Linked DNA regions of Homo sapiens. The protein of the gene in region 1 purifies or fractionates together with the protein of each later gene. This does not show direct contact. Each region holds a gene or a part of one and is shown on either strand. Other genes may lie near its edges.

Region 1 (3,749 bases):
AATCAACAAGCACTGGCAAGTGAGCTAAAACACATCGGCAATTTCTGTTCTAAAAAGTTTTAAGTGTGCTGTGTAGAGAGTGGCATGCTTGGATGACATAAACTGGGCAAGCCTTTGAGGAAATGCATCACCCTGATTACTATAGTTTTAAGGCTACTTAAAAGGTCCCTATGTCCAAAGAATACCCTCTCTGCTCACTGGATAGCAGGTGAAATTCCACAATCTGAGCTTCAATCCTTGAGGTTAATGCTTAGTAATAAAGTTAAACTAAACTATCACCCAATTTAAGCAATTTATACATTGTGAAAAGAGAACAATGCAACTCAGATGAAATTTTCCTAAATCTCCAGTTATGGTAATCTTAGTTAATGCTTTATTGTCACTATACCAATAGTTTTGCATGTATTTAAAATGACGCTACTCATAGTAATTGCTTATCTGCTCAGTGGAGCAATTTAGGACTACCCGGCAGTCTTTTAAAACCTTGGCATTTATGAAGATTAAAAACTTGAATGGTGATATGGTTTAGATTTGTGTTACCTGCCCAAATCTCATGGTGAACTGTAATCCCCAATGTTGGAGATGGGGCCTGGTGGGAGGTGATTGGATCATGGGGGCGGTTTCTCATGGTTAAAACCATCACCCCTTGATGCTGTGGTCACAGTAGTGAGTTCTCGTGAGATCTGATTGTTTAAAAATATGTGGCACCTCCCAATTCTCTTCCTCCTGCTCCAGTCATGTGAAGTGCTGGCTCCCCGTTTGCCTTCTGCCATGATTGTAAGTTGCCTGAGACCTCCCCAGCATCATGCTTCCTGTATAGCCTGCAGAACCATGAGCCAGTTAAACCTCTTTTCTTTATAAATTGCCCAGTCTCAGGTATTTCTTTTTAGCAATGCGAAAACAGACTAATACAAATGGAGATGCCTATTCTTAACTCTTATCAAATAAAATCTGACTAGGTTAATCATCACCTCAACTTAGAGAATCTGAATTTCAGAAAACTTGAGGGGCAATTCTCAAATGCTATATATAATTTGCAAATGAAACTACATTTGCCCCAATATTTTTAATTTTGCAGATAGGCAACTAAAACACAAGGAGATTAAGTGATTTATGCAAATTTTAGTGATAGAATTTCAACTAGATATAGAACCAAAATAATAGAAACCTTGCTTTCAGATTTATTAGTTCAACAACGATTATATTGGCAATGTCATTTTACAATTGAGATCATTGGTAGAATACCGAGACTATAATAAAATAGGGATCAAAAAGATTTGGAACTTTTGAATTTCAAATTCAGCCAAAGGCTCATAGAAGGCAAGCAAAATTAAGTGGGACTCAGGAAAAGAAGAAACTAAATAATTAAAGCAGCTCCAATAATAGCAAACTACAATAACAATGACAGAGGCTAATATTTACTGAGCTTTTGCTAACTGTCAGACATTGTTTTTAGACATTATCTAATGTAATTAGATTCCTTTCAGCATCCCCATAAAATTCTATCATTATGTTTGTTTTACAAATGTCAAAGGGAAGTTAAGGCATTGCTCAAGGTTATACTAATAAGTGGTAAATTCAGGTTGGAACCCAGGCAGTCTGCATATGCTTGAAACTGCTATATATATTTTCTCTTGTAAATCTTATTCTCCATGTTCATATTGTAACACCAGAAAGATATAGCATAAGACCAAAGACAGTCTTGGGTAAACCTGACAGTCTTCTTTTCAGGGTGTCTTCACCCACTCTTCAGTCATCCCTAGCCAGGAATGCAGGACCTTGTGTTACTCTTAGGATGACCACAATCTCTACTGTGACAATGAACCGTGATGTGTTTCCTCCTCTCCACTCTTAAACGTCTTACTCTCATAAAAACAACATCGCACCCTGTCCCACACCCTTAGAGACCTGTTTCTTCTGGGGATAATCCTAATAATTAGTGTATGTTTTGCTATCAAGAGTTGTTCATGTGTTAACCTTGGTGGATAACAGAACTGTTTTCTTAAACCAAAGAAATAACTATTATAATAATAGTAGAGATTTCAGACACTGAGGTGGCCCATTATAAAAATGACAAATGTGACTGTAGGCCTCTGCAAGCATACCAGTGCTACACAGGTGTGGCCCTTTATTTTTCTCATAAGAATGACCATTAAAGATAGCAGCTGAACTTAATGAGCACCGATTATGTCCCAGGCAGTGTTATAATAGTGTGCTCTTCCCTCACCTTGTCTCAACTCATTTAACTATTATGACAAACCTGTGAGGTACTATTATTATTCATATTTTACAGATGAAGAAGCTAAGCCACAGAAAGATTAAGTAAATTTCAAAAAATAAAAATAAAAATCCAAAAAGGAACTAGTTAATGGCAGAGCCACAGTCAGAACTCTTTCAGGCTCTTGAGTATATATTCCCTTAGGATAAACACCTAGAACAATGCCTGCCACAAAGTACGTGCTCAATAAGTATCTGTTGAATGAATATTGCTCCAGGCATAATACCAGCCCAGTAATGGAGACACAAGTCCATGGGTGATATTTAACCCTTAAGATCCATATATAACATTAAGAGGAAGTAATTTTAAAACTGTCTATATCAACCATGGGACAATTTACTGCAAAAGGCTAAAAAGATTACTATAGTGTTAATGTTCGCATTTAGTCACTCTATGCTTCCTCTCTTCTTTCCTTACCTACCACGTGGTTTAAAAGTTCAAATCACATGGCAGGTAAATGAAGGCTTGCAGCTGACGTCCATACTCAGGTTTGATGCTTGACAGGTGGCATGACTGAGAGCAGTCCATGGTTTGCAAAGCAGTGGTTGGCTACATGTAGTATGTTTAACTTTATTCTGTGTTGACATGGCACTGTATCATTTTTAGTACATCGTAAAGCACACAGTAATGGGTAACAGCAAAAATCCTGCCAAAGGATAAAACAGATATGACTGTATTAAAAAAAATTTTAAAAAGGGGGAGGAATCCATTAGTCTGAATTTCATCCCTTAGAAGTAGCCTGAGTTTACATAAGCCTCCAAAGCTTTCTCAGAGTAGATGGGATCTTATTTTTGTCAAAATAGATAGATAGGGGCAGGAGGATATCCTAGTGTGAGAAGTTGGAAGTGGCTGAGAGATCTGTGCACTTTTCCTGTAATCTGCTTTGTTTTACTATACAATAAGAGAATAAGACCCAGGTCTTTTCTTTGTTGTGAGAAACACCAGAAGGATTAATGCAGTAACAGCTGCACTGTACAGCACTCAGCATTGTAAGCTAGATAGAGCCTCTGTGGATGCAAATACTTTTCTTGTCTTCTGCTCTGGGAAGTAATCACAGAGTTCACACCTTGGGATTTCACCCTGTGCTTTCCTCCATGGTACTCTCAACAGGTATCCACTGTTGTTTCATGAGCCACATCTCAATGGAAATTCCTGTCCAGAGCCATCTGTCTGGAATAGTTAACGTAGTTTTTGGTTTTGCCCTCTGGGCTTCCAAAATCTGATTCAAAGTGTAATAAGGGGAGTAGAATTGCGTGCGGATTTGGAATTAGACCAAGAGAGGCTCATGAGAGTATTGTAATAACTGCCATAAAGGGAGGTGTCATAGGGGGAAAAAAAGGATTTTGTATTATGATAACTTTTAATGGCTGAAACTACAGAGTAACATTAACTGCTCTTTAAACAATGTCTTTAACAATGTTAGTCTTTAAAGTGAGCATCTGCAACCATTTTTTAAGTCAGATTTCAGAAA
Region 2 (3,749 bases), on another chromosome or scaffold:
TTACACCAACAGCTCTGCCAGTTGCCCTCTGCCTCACAGGCTACTCTCTAATCCTGGCCAAAACCTTGGGCCTCAGATCTAACCTCTGAGGCTCTGGGCTCTCAAACCAGCAGATCTGGTATAAAAGGGCTGATCCTGAAGGGCCTCTAAAGAGACATGGATTCTGTCTCCCTCCTGGGGAGACTTCACCAGCCCCTGCCAGCATTCACCACCAACCACTTGTCTTCTTCCTAGAAACCAACCACCCCCACCACGCCAGGACATCAGTCTTCTCAGAAACGTCAAGTCTGTTTCCATGTAACTGTGCAATTAAATTCTATTATATCAGGGCTCAAATATTATGTATCAATTAGATACATGTTGTCAAGTGACCGAGAAATTCAGGGCAAACGTCGTTTCAGTTGGCCTTACTGCTGTGCCCAGCTGGGGCCATACAGATGGATGAAGCTACTCAGAGCTGTGGGCCATATCCCCATATTTGATTTTTAAGAAAGTTTATGTGGAAGAAAAGAGTGATGCACAAAAGAGTTTCAGTTTTTTTTCTTTTTTTTTGAGACAGAGTCTCACTCTGTCTGTTGCCCAGGCTGGAGTACAGTGGCATGATCTCAGCTCACTGCAACCTCTGCCTCCCAGGCTCAAGCGACTCTCTTGCCTCAGCCTCCCGAGTATCTGGGATTACAGGTGCCTGCCACCACGCCCAGCTAATTTTTGTATTTTTAATAGAGACGGGCTTTCACCATGTTGGCCAGGCTGGTGTTGAACTCCTGACCTCAAGTGATCCACCCTCCTCAGCCTCCCAAAGTGCTGGGATTACAGGTGTGAGCCACTGGGCCCAGAAGAGTTTCAGTTTCTTCTTCGCTCTCCCCTCAGGATGTTGTCCATGTTGGAACTTTCCCTCCAATCTAATGGCCAGGATTCCCTGTCTCCCAACTTCCCACCTCCTAAATGACTGTGCAAGAAAAAGACTTTATATAACAGGATGGGGATGGAGAAGAGGGACTGAACTCTATTCAGTGAAGTGCTGCTCTGCATGGCTTAGAAGGGTGGGGCCCCACTGGGCTTGGTGGCTCAAGCCTGTAATCCCAGCGCTTTGGGATGCCAAGGCAGGCGGATCACCTGAGGTCAGGAGCCTGGCCAACATGGCGAAACCCCATCTCTACTAAAATAAAAATTCAAAAATTAGCCGGGTGTGGTGGTGCGTGCCTGTAATCCCAGCTACTCAGAAGGCTGAGACAGGAGAATCCCTTGAACCTGGGAGGCGGAGGTTGCAGTGAGCTGAGATGGCACCACTGCCTTCCAGCCCGGATGATGAAGCAAGACTCCATCCCCCACCAAAAAAAAAAAAAAAAAAAAAAAGGGGGGGGGGGCCCAGAGGGATAGCCCGTCCCTGACTCATCAATGACCTGCAGGCCCTTATGGCAAAGCCTCCTGGGACCCTTGAGATAACTTCTGCACCCTTTAGATGCCTTTTTACTCTTCTCCAGACATCAGAATTTGGTGGCCCACACCCACTACCTGATGCTTAGGACCTCCTGCCCCACCCTTCTAAGCCATGCAGAGCAAACCAGTCTTCTGACTGAGTTTTTACTTGGCAAGTCTGCACACACATGGAGTGGCTGCAGAGCCCACAGGAAAAGCTGCCCCGGCCAAGCCCTGGCCTCCACCTTAATCAATCCCTGGGCCCTTGTTCTCCACCCCACAGCCCTGTGCTTCAAACTTGCTCCTGTTGCCATAAGAGGACATGACACCCCTAGTTCCAGCCCACCTCCTTAGGCTCAGCCTGGGCCCCAGTGCTATTTTCCTACTGTTTATCCACGTAGTTCCTGGGATAGGATCCTCAGCTCTGCCTGGAAGTTAGTGCTGTGTGCACACACATGAACCAGGAGCCATACACCCTCTCACAACTGGCTGTGCCCAAAAGGATGATCAAGCCCAGACCTTGGCCAGCAGCGGTGACCTGCTTCTCCAGGAAGCACTGCTCAGGCCACCATCAGGAGAGTGCAGCAGCAACAAAGGCAAGCCAGACAGCCCAGAGGCATCACCCTACGTTTTGCCACATTTCTGAGACTCAAACTGGGTTGCTGTGAAGATCGGATGAGATGAGCCATGTTAGGTGTTTAGAACAGTGCCGGCATGACAACGTAAATATCGGCCGTTATTTCACTCCTTTCTCCCCATTTTCTTTGCTCCACTCTACCACACTCCCGTCTGGTACCCCAACAGCCAAGCCTACCGTCGGGGTCTTTGCATGTGCCCATGTGCCAGCTCTGCTCTTCCCTATCTTCTTCACCTGGCACACTCTGATTCGTGTCTCTGCCAAGATGCCTTCCTTGACGCCTGGGACCATGTAAGGTCCACCTACCCTTCACCAACAGCAACAAGCGCAACCACTTGCTCAACTTCTCTCAGGCCCCCTCAGCTGCAAGCTACATGAAGACAGGGATTGGCTCCACCAGCACTGCCAAGCCGCTGTGCTAGGGCTCTCAACATTCAGCAGATGTGCCTGGGATCTAAAAACATCCACAGTTCCTCAACTGTAACTGCCAAATCCAAGAAGCACTAAAACACAGAAGTTTTCTAAACTCAATTGGCAGTAAAACCTCATCCAGCCTCATTTGGTAAAATCTGATCTGATCTAATATGGGGCTATTTATAGTCTTTTCTCTCTCCTGCTGTGGCTATTCATACATTTTGCTACAGAAATAAACATGGTGGCTTATGCCATGCTGCTTCTGATCTTCCACTACAGAGTAAATTCACCAGATCATCTTTTCAAAATCCAAAAAATTCTCAATTCTGAAATACATCTAGGACCAAGAACTTCAAAACTATGAAAATGGAAGTACAAAGTTACTCATTGACTGCTAGCATCCCATGTCAAGCCCTCCAGCCCTTTAACCTGAACTCATTCCTTCGTAGGAAACACTGTTTTAAGTCTGGACTCTTGATGTAGTTTCCCAGCTGGTCCACCTGTCACTAATCTTGCTTCCCTCTCACAAACCTTCCCAACAGCAACAGCGCATCCTTCCTGACAAGTACACCTGGTCACGACATTAACTTGCTTTAAAAACCATCAGAGGCTGCACTGCCCACAAACTCAAACTCAAACTCATTATGATGACATCCAAAGCCCTTCAGACAGACTGTCTGAAACATCCCTTTTCAACCTTACCTCCAACCACTAACCCCATGGACCCTGCACTCTGGCCTCAGCAGGCTGCTTTTTCCCCAGTAAGCATATACCTGGACGCTGCTGTGTCTCTGCTCCAGCTGGTCCCTCATCCTGGAATTTGACCCACAGCGCCACCTGCCAGCCACCCACACATCCTTTCAGGCCACTTCAGGTGACTCCTTCTGTAACATCACAGACAGAGCCAGGCCTCCCTATGACTACACTCCCACAGCACTCTCTCCACGCTGTAACAGAATCTGTGGCCACGCTGACCTGACTCCCACCTTCCTCCTTAGGAAAAAAGACTCTATGACCTCTGTGCCCACCACAGTGCTTGGCACATGTATGAGGTTCAAGTGGCTGGATGGAAGACTGCTTGCACTATTACCGAAATCAGGGAGAAAGATGGCCAACGCAGCAGCAAGAGAGTGAAGTGTGACATTTTCCAGAGATGACCGCACATATCCCATTCCATATGCTCTTCTTACAAGTGATAAAGACACTCCTGCCTCCAGAGCTGAGGGTCTATGTTCCCTCCCTTTGGTTCTGGGAAGAGATGCTATGTGACTTGTGAGAC
Region 3 (3,749 bases), on another chromosome or scaffold:
TACCCAGTTTCACCGCAATTTCTGAAGTGCACGGGTTATATTGGCAAGTAACTTGAAACTGAACTCGCACATGCCGCGCGGTGGATACCCTTCCAAAGGGAACAGACTGTGTCCGCTTTGCTTATTTTTGGTAACTTTAAATAAGACTTTGGATGGGTCGTCTTCCCAACTCATTTACCAATTTAACCACTGGACGCAGGACTGAGCGCCCCACAGCTTTCGGCCGGAGTATAACACGCGCTTCCCCACTCGGTTCCCCCTGTCTGCCACAAACAAACCAGATGTAATAGCTGAAGAATGACGACACTAAAATCAACCTAGAGATTCACATCTAAAAGGGCCGCAACACGAAATAAACTTCTCTCTCTTCAGAGGCAGCGGGGAAGAAAAAGAAAAAAAAGCCTAGGTGGGTTCGGTTTGATCCATTTCCGCGACTCCGTGCGCTCAGGGGCTCTGGGCTGGTGCGGGCGGCTTAACCCTGTGAGAGCCGAGAACGACCCCACCGGGATACGCGGGCCCCGGGCTGGCGGGGGGTGCCTCACGCCGCGCCCGTTCCCCCGCCAGCAGGTGCCCGAAGCCACCCCAACAGGCCGGGTGCGAATGCCGGAACATGGCCACTTTCCTGAGCGGGATGATGCCGCCGCCGCCGCCGCACGCCGCCCAGCACTTTGTTAACTTGGCGCGCCCGGGCGAGGTGGCTCCCAGGAGGTGATCATTGCCGTCCGAGAGCTACAGAGCCCCTGGCCTCGCCCAGCACGGGTGTGGGGCCGCGGCGGGAGGAAGAGGTTGGGTAGCAGCCGCTAACCAGGGGCCCGCACGCCTGGCCCCTCGGAGCCCCGCGCCCCCTTCCCAGGTGCTTACCTGAGGGAAGGAGCCCTCGCGGCGCGGGTTCCTGGGGTAGTCTAAGTGACCCCGGTCCAGCATCAGGTAGAGCGAGAAAATCACCACACAGAAGATCGCACTGCCGAACACGGTGAACTGGCGGCTTAACTTCATTTTCCTCGATAGACTCGGGGCCAGGACACTCTCCTCAGCCAAAGGAGACAGCGCACTGTGGACTCTAGGAAGCAGCCGCCGGAGGCTCCCTTCTCCCGGGCTGCGCGACCTCCGCGCTCTCGGATGCGGGTGCGAGTCCCCGCCTTGCTCCGCACCTAGTCTCCGGCGCCACCACACGCCCTTGGCCTTCGCCCTGGCCTGCCGCCCTCCCCGGGGTCGGGCGCCCCTCTCGAGGCGAGACTCGCCGGCAACTGGGAAGGGGGGCCCCCACAAACTTGATCGCAAGCTCAGCGCCGACCTCCGGCAGGGCGCGCGGGGCAGGCGGAGGAGAGGTCGCTGCCCGCACTTCCTGCCACCGCCGCCCCAACTGAGTCGGCAGGAAAAGTTTTCTCGACGAGGGCAGGCGTGTCCTCCTCACCCAGGGGAGGCGCGGGTTCGGCAGCTCCCGGGCCGGGGCCGCGCAGCTAGGTCAGAGAAGCGGAGGGGAAAGGAACAAGATCGCGAGGAGCCAAGCCCTACAACTTCTGGGCGGGACGGTCGGGCCCGCCCCCGCGGCACCGGCACCGCCCCCGCCTACCCCGACTGAGCCCCTTCGTGCTGCTGCCGCCGCCGCCGCCGACGCTGCGGCTGGGCCGATGTGCACCCCGGACTCCGGGGCTCACGGATTGATGAGTTTCCTCAGAGCTAGCGTCCGCTCGCCAGACTCTCCCGCCCCCCGCCGCCCCTACCTTCCCCCTCCCGGACCCAGGCTCCGCGGGGAGGCGCAGGGGGCGGGCGGCGGCAACGCGGAAAGAAGGAAAAGGAGAGCAGGGAGGAAAGGACCGTCCCCGGAGAGAAGCCCGCTCCAGCTGCAGCCGCTAGCCCCCTCCCTCTTTCCCGCCCCACAAACGCGGAGATGGCGGCGGAAGCGGCGAAAGGAAGCGCCGGTTCTCCAGCGCCACTTGGCGCTCCAGCACCGCCCGCCACGAGCAGGAGGAGACAGCGGCGGCGCAGCAGCCGCTGGGTCAATAGGCGCCCGCAGCGCCTGAGCCGAGCGGGCGGCTGGCCCCGCCCCCTCCCGACGCTCCGAGATGAGGGGGCGGGCCCCACGGCGCCCAATCACAGCGCGTCGCCCGGCGGACCCGCCCCGCGCCTGCCTCCCAGTGTCCCGGCGATAGGAAGACCTCACAGGGCTCTTGTGACCTGGCAGGCAGCTTTCTGGGAGTTGAGGCCTTCGGGGGCGTTCAGGCGCCAGCACCCCCACGTCCAACAGGGGTTGAGCTTACACCCCACTTCCCTTTGTTGCTCAGGTTTCCTATCCTAGGACACTCGGGCCTGGCGTGCCTGGAAGAGTACTTGGTGACGGGCTGGAGGAAATGCAAGAGAAGAGGGCTTGCACATTCTCTTCGGGCTCACTATTTCCTCCTTTGGTGACAGCCTGTTAAAACCTGGGGGAAAGGAGACTGACAAAGGGCCGTCCAGGCACATGTAGAAACATCTGACTACGAAATCCATGAGTGTAATCTGAGAAGTGATGCTTCTGCCAGTTATTGATTTATTGCCTCTCAGCTCCAAATTCGCCCTTTTTGACTGCACTGTAAAAACGGATCTGAGCCTTTTAAACAGTTTTTCGTTTGCCTTCTGGGACTGAAGCTTTATCAGCAGAGGGCGCTGAAGAGACATTACAGAAAAAAAGGATTTTGCTTCCTGATTTCTGTGTATTGATAAGCTTTTGCAGCATACCTGGCTTTCTCCACTGCCAAGGTCCTATAGTGCTCAGTAACTAGCAATTTCCTCTCACATGCCCAACTCTAGGAGCTTTGTAGAGGAGGTGAGACACTACCCCATGAATAACTTCCCTGGCACCCTAGAGGCATTTGCAGCAAGTTGCAGAGGGCACATCTTCCACAAGCTTTGCAGACGTAGCCCAATGGTGACTTCTCTGCCATTCAGTGAGCCAGGTCATGCCCTCTCCAAAAACGTCTAGATCTTAGCCCTGGGAGGAATTGGGGAGGTTCTTCATTGGGCACTCTGTCTCTCAACCCAAGAGTTAGTTATAAGGTTAGCTCCTTATAGCTGCTGTTGCTATATTCTTTAAAGTTCTCTTCTTGCTAGTGAATCCTTCATTACTCTAATCCTCTATTATAGTTAACAATTCTTTTTATTAAGCCTTCCCTGTCCCGGGAGTAGTCCCAAGAAATAGACCTGCAAAGATGGGATTAAAGGTCAGTTTGATTGAGGTTTTGAGCTTTAGCTCCTTGCCAAAGGGAAATGTAATTCATGACATGCTGGGCATCTCAATTAAGCAATTACCTGTGGTTGATCCTGATGAAGTGCCAACTGAAGCCTGTGCCTTGGGGCCCCAAGTGGCTGCTACACTTGACTGCTATGGTTATAAAGATGACTAGAAAGACTGGTGTGGGATGGATTCTTTTGCGTGCTTTTGAGTGGTTATAAAGAGAAATGACAAGCACAGGTTTTTTAACTCTCAGAGTTATGGTATGAGAACCAGAGATATTCTGCAGAATTCCAAAAGCTCTGGTTTATTGTAGCAACAAGAATTATGCTGAGAATCAAACAAAATTTTAATTTTCATGTTACTGAATTATAACTGCTATTAAATTCACACATATTCTGAGTTTTTCGTGTAAAATGGTGTTATTTTTTAATAATAGAATCTCAATACTTGAAATGGGTTGGACCCAGATGAAACCGACAATCTTAAACACGCCAACTCTTTCTCTTATCAGTGGAAGTAGGTTGCCCTCCAGTGT

The links.
Region 2: the proteins of FUT8 (region 1) and MGAT1 purify together in Homo sapiens (affinity purification with mass spectrometry; 2 studies listed by BioGRID and IntAct, with this or other methods). This does not show direct contact.
Region 3: the proteins of FUT8 (region 1) and MAN2A1 purify together in Homo sapiens (affinity purification with mass spectrometry; 2 studies listed by BioGRID and IntAct, with this or other methods). This does not show direct contact.

The regions. Positions count from the first base shown.
Region 1 is NC_000014.9:65,737,639-65,741,387, reverse strand, and holds part of FUT8 (alpha-(1,6)-fucosyltransferase), read right to left. Parts: intron 1-3,749. UniProt on the Homo sapiens protein: Catalyzes the addition of fucose in alpha 1-6 linkage to the first GlcNAc residue, next to the peptide chains in N-glycans.
Region 2 is NC_000005.10:180,796,074-180,799,822, forward strand, and holds part of MGAT1 (alpha-1,3-mannosyl-glycoprotein 2-beta-N-acetylglucosaminyltransferase), read right to left. Parts: intron 1-3,749. UniProt on the Homo sapiens protein: Initiates complex N-linked carbohydrate formation. Essential for the conversion of high-mannose to hybrid and complex N-glycans.
Region 3 is NC_000005.10:109,687,665-109,691,413, reverse strand, and holds the start of MAN2A1 (alpha-mannosidase 2), read right to left. Parts: upstream 1,488-3,749; 5' UTR 997-1,487; coding exon 862-996; exon of another isoform or gene 315-861; intron 1-314. UniProt on the Homo sapiens protein: Catalyzes the first committed step in the biosynthesis of complex N-glycans. It controls conversion of high mannose to complex N-glycans; the final hydrolytic step in the N-glycan maturation pathway.